Linked DNA regions of Homo sapiens: region 1 is linked to region 2. A link means that fine-mapping ties the variant in region 2 to the expression of a gene that starts in the linked region. Tissue or cell type: pancreas. Region 2 holds a variant in brackets; the other region holds the start of a gene. All regions are shown on one strand. Distances are from middle to middle.

What was found. PIP is the estimated chance that this variant, and not a neighbour inherited with it, causes the effect.
Region 1: it holds the start of ATE1, and the variant in region 2 is fine-mapped to the expression of ATE1 in pancreas (GTEx, PIP above 0.99).

The regions. Positions count from the first base shown.
Region 1 is chr10:121,927,007-121,929,680 of GRCh38, forward strand. ATE1 (arginyltransferase 1) reads right to left here and starts at 1,025. Exons shown (of 12, transcript NM_001001976.3): 1 at 838-1,025. The coding sequence starts at 943. It also overlaps the pseudogene ATE1OSP. RefSeq lists enhancers at 237-386, 925-1,791 and silencers at 697-1,116, 1,307-1,606.
Region 2 is chr10:121,836,743-121,839,416 of GRCh38, forward strand. ATE1 (arginyltransferase 1) reads right to left here. Exons shown (of 12, transcript NM_001001976.3): 10 at 1-75. Among named protein-coding and RNA genes, the nearest start is that of ATE1, 90 kb to the right of the region's middle. The variant G/C (reference allele first, on the strand shown) is at 1,560.

The sequences.
Region 1 (2,674 bases), 90 kb after region 2:
AAAATGCCTGTGTGTTTTCATGCGAATCTCGTTTTCCACAAAGCTAGACTGTTCTATTAAAATAATAGAGTCTACATTCTATATTGGCAAATGCATGGCAAGAGAGGAAATAAACACGATGTTTTGTTTACCAGCAACAAATCTCCCCCAAAGAAATCTGAATCACGATGGAAAAACAAAACAAACTTGTGGGCTGGCTTTGCTGTCGTCCGGGTGGGTGGAGGAAAGACACGGCATATAAGCAAATGGTAAAAATTTCAAACAGATCAGGACAAACAGAATCCCTCGCCGGTAGCGACCGCGGTCACCAGTTTCTTGTCCTTTTTTTTTTTAACTTTTTTTTTTTTTAACCCAGAGATGCAAAGGGCTCATCCTTCCTGTACATTCGTCCAGGGAAGTCTGATTCATACATGACCGGCACCTGTGTGCACACCCACAGCTCCCTCTGCACCGCGTTTCGCCCTCGCTCCCGGGACGCTCCCACCGCAGCACCCACCGGTCAGCCCCGGCCATTAACTACGGCTCTGGGGCGTTCCCTGGCACTGCGCGCCGTCCTTCACCTCACACAATCTACCCCAGACGGGCGTCCGTCTCCCGACTCTGGGGAGACCACCACGATTTCGAGAGTACGGGCACCGGTTAGGATTTTCCTGCAGAACAGGCACCGCGAAGCTGCCCCGCTAAGCCGGCGCCGCGGCCCTCCCGAGAGTGCCCCCTCCGTCTCGGCCGTGGCACTGGGGCCAGGGGCTCCGGCCCCCTCGCGTCCTCGCTGGGGGACCCTGGGATCCCGAGACCCGGGCGCCCGGCTTCCCACGCCCGCCGGCCCGGCTCGCTCACCATTGGAGCGGCTGCCCGACTCGTTCTTGCAGTAGCCGCAGCGGTAGAAGTCCTCGCTAGGGAAATAGTCCACGACGCTGGGCGAACCCCCCGCCCAGAAAGCCATGGCCTCGGCCCCGCGAACGCTCAGCCGCCCGGCCCCGCGTCGCTAGCGCGGCCGCCGCCGCCACCCCACAATGCAGCGCGCCGCCCGGGAGCCTCCCGAGGCTCGCGCGAAGCCACTCGGGCGCCCGCAGGCCCGGCCGGCCCGGCGCCTCTTGGAGCTGACGCCGCCCGCGCCATCTTGACCGAGGGCAGCTTTCCACTATTTCCGTTCCTTCTCCATAAGGGGCCGCCGTCGTCAGTGAGGGTGAGGCGGAGAGACAGAGCGGGAAGGGAAACAGGATGGGGAGAGTCAAGAGGGGAAGGGAAGCGGGAGTCGGGGTGCGAGCCTGCCCTTTCCCCCGCCGAGGGCCTGTGCGGGGCGCGGCGGCCGCGCCAACTCCGGCGTCGGGAACACTCACCGCAGGACGCTTTGCCCTCCTTGGAATCGCAGTAGCCGCAGTGGTAGCCGGCCCTGAGGCCCTTGTATTCCACCACCGACGCCATGGCCGCCGCGAGGGTCCGCTCGGGCCGACCACGCCTCTTGGCGCCCGGGGCCGACCTCGGCGAAGCGCTGGGGCCCGCGGCGGGAGGGGTGGAGAGCGAAGCCTGGCGCGGGGACCCGTGGGCGGGGATGGTGGTCGTGTCCCCAAGCCCTGCGTTTGGGCCGGTGCTTCCCACAGCTGTGCGTTATCAGCCCCATTTCACAGGTAAGGAAACTGAGGACCGGAGGTTGTGATTATCCCAAAGTCATTCCCGGCGGGTCTCGGATTGAAAGTCAGGCCGCCCCTGGCCACCGTGTAAGTGACTTGCTGGAGCTGCTTCCAGACCAGCTGGCACGCACTCCAGTGCCCTGAATACAAGAACACAAGCAGGTATTCCGTGAATGGCGAGGGTTCGCAAATTAAAGAACTCTTAACGGCTTTTAAAGGAAACAACTGTCAGCTAGAGACAGTTGCTGTCTTGTACCACTATAAGTCCGGTGCCTCATACGATTTTTAATGAGATGCTGGAAATACAGGGTTTGTTTGTTTTTTTTAACTCTACAGTCCAAACAAAACAGTTTTACAGGCTGAATCCAGCCCATGGGCCTCCATTTTGCAACCACTATTTTAAGGAAGATTTAAGGAATAAGAGTCTAGGGCAAAATATAAAATTGAGGCTCATGCCTGTAATCCCAGCACTTTGGGAGGCCGAGGCGGGCGTATCATGAGGTCAGGAGATTGAGACCATCCTGGCTAACACGTGAAACCCCGTCTCTACTAAAAATACAAAAAATCAGCCTGGCGTGGTGGTGGGCGCCTGTAGTCCCAGCTAGTCGGGAGGCTGAGGCAGGAGAATGGTGTGAACCCGGGAGGCGGAGCTTGCAGTGAGCCGAGATCACGCCGCTGCACTCCAGCCTGTGTGACAGAGCAAGACTCCATCTCAAAAAAATTTTTTAAAAAATGAGTTCCAGGGGCGGGCGCGGTGGCTCACGCCTGTAATCCCAGCACTTTGGGAGGCCGAGGCGGGTGGATCACGAGGTCAGGAGATAAGAGACCATCCTGGCTAACATGGTGAAACCCCTTCTCTACTAAAAAATACAAAAAATTAGCGGGACGTGGTGGCACGCGCCTGTAGTCCCAGCTACTCGGGAGGCTGAGGCAGGAGAATGGCGTGAACCCGGGAGGCAGAGCTTGCAGTGAGCAGAGATCGCGTCACTGCACTCCAGCCTGGGCGAAAGAGCGAGACTCCATCTCAAAAAAAAAAAAAAAGA
Region 2 (2,674 bases):
TGAATGTAGAAACCCATATAATAATAGCTGAGTTGAGAAGTTTTCTCATGAAGCTGCCTAGTAAAAGCAATTTCTCTGCGAAAAGAAAAAGAAGAAAGCTGAAGGCAGTTAATTCTGGTTCTAATGTACAAATATCTGTGTAATTTGATGGTAAACATTTGATAAAATCTGGTATTAAGCTATCAAAAAATTACAAATATTGAAAGAAAAACTACTTTTAAAACACTATACAATTTTTACTAAAGAAATAATAAAACCCTCTACATAATTTTAAGCAAATGCATCTAAGTTCAGGTTTTACACTTTATTGGACAAAGTAGCTGATCTAAACTTCAAGCAGCATAAAATTAAAGAGATCTACAGTGTCCTGTTATTATTCATCATGCCCTATGGTTCTCAAAGAATCTGGGCTTAACAGGTTAAAAACAGTACAGCACATTTTAGAAAACTCAAAAGCCAATAAATTACAGGACGAATAACTATTATTATGACCATTTACATGCAAAGACTTTCAGCTGCATATGACATCTAATTCATTCCTTTATCTAGGCACAACTTTAATATTTATTTCCCCTAAAACTAGACAGCAGGAAATACCATGTTATCTCACCACATTTTCTGTATTTGTTGGAATAAGCCAGGTAACTCAAACGTAAGAAGTTGTCAGTCTCTCCACTATAACGCCTATGCATGAATTTTTTTTCATTTGCATCCTGATAAATCTTGGCACAGAATTTCATTCTACTTGCCCAGCTAAATGACTAGTTTGAAAGTGCTTAGTAAAACTTCAGTATATTTCTAAAGTATGAGGAAAGTAGTTTTGTTTTTATGTTTGTTTCTTGAAGGTATTCTTTTCTTTATTAGTAGCAATTGATGCTTGAAATTCTAAAGAAATGTATTTGTAATGCAATATTCTGTGCATTTTTCTACTTCAAATTTAAATCCTTAAAGAATTATTACCGTAAGAATTCATTTTTAAATTAAAATTATTTCTAAATCCAACCAGACTAAACAATATTAGCCTATAACAGAATAAATCCTATTTCCAGAATTAATCCACTCTCAAAGTTCAAACTGAGGAAAGAATGCACTGACACAAGCAAGCGTAAGACCACCAATTCCGAGAAGGCCCACCCAGCCAGGGTACCAATCCACTTGGTCCTGCCCACGTCAGTTCATTTCATCACCTCTCTCCGGATTTGTTCTGGCCCCAAACCTTGGAGTCACCCTTAATTCTTTTCTTCTCATCCCAATGTCCAATCCATCAGCAGGTCTTTTGGGCTTTCTCTCTAAAATATGTCTTGAATCTGACCACTTCTTACCACCTCCACCTCAGATATTCTGGGTCAAGCAGCATTATGGTGCCCTTGGATGACTGCAGCAGCTTCCCAGCAGCCTCCTGTTTCCACTCTTACCCCTCCATAATCTCCACAGAACAGGCCAAGTAATCTTTTACAATATTAATCAGATCTCCCAATCCCCCACCCCAGCAGTGGGTTGGCACCACATATAAATAAAACCCAACCTCCCCACCCTCCTACAAGTGCTATTCCACCTGC[G/C]TCCTTCTCACCAACTCCACCTGCCTCCTTCTCACCAGCTCACTCCACCTGCCTCCTTCTCACCAACTCCACCTGCCTCTGTGCCCCTTGCATAAGGCTCTCTACGTCCTTCCCTACACCCGAGCCCAAAAGGCATTTTTGTTTTTCCTGGCCACCTCGAGGCACTTAGATTTGCTAACCTTCACTTGAACTTCTTCCTACCCTCAGATTTTTACATGACTGATTCCTTTTCTTCTTCCTTTGCCCCTGAAATGTCACCTGTTCTCTACGAGGAAAGACCAATCTATATAAAACAGGCTTCATGCCCACCACCTCTAATTTTATTTGTGTCACAGTGCTAGGGAGTATCTGAAATTAAGTTGTCTGTTTTATTATTTATGGTCTGCTTGGACAAACCAGAAACCTGTCTTATTCATGTCTATGAGTGTAATTACCTTTTTAAAATGTATCTTTCTAAAAATATGCAAACAAATGCCATGCTCATGATCCCCAATTCAAACAATTCTTATATCTACAGGCTATGGATAAGCAGAGGCTGATTACAAAAATGAATTAAAAAAATAAAAAAATAAAAATCTACAGGCTACATTATATAAATCTAAAAACATAAAACTATATTGATTGTTGGATTGCTTAAGAAACTTAAGAAATTGAGGGTAAAATATTTCACCAAAATACATTAAAATCAATAACAGAATTAGCAACTGGTAACCTACTTTCTCCAATTTTGCTTCAAGAGGTCAATCCCCTGGCTGCCTTTCCTTTTCTATAAACTCCGCAACTCATCTTCTCAAGAGCACCAAAAGGAAGTGACAAGACCGCAGAGCAGCCGCAACCATCCCACCCTCAACTGGCAAACCTTTCATGACCTCAGGCTCCTCTCCTGCTCCCTCCCGGCTCTCCAGCTCTAGTATTTGCAGGGATATACAAGGTGATCAATAGAACTCTTGCTAATTTTGCTGGGAATTAATTATTTACCATATCAATATCTAAACTATCACTCAGTTTATTGAGCCATGAAATATTTCAGACACAGGCCAGAGCTTATTATGTAGAAATAAATTTCACCCTTAAAAATCCATCTGAGAAGCCTAGAAAAATCTATAACACATTGT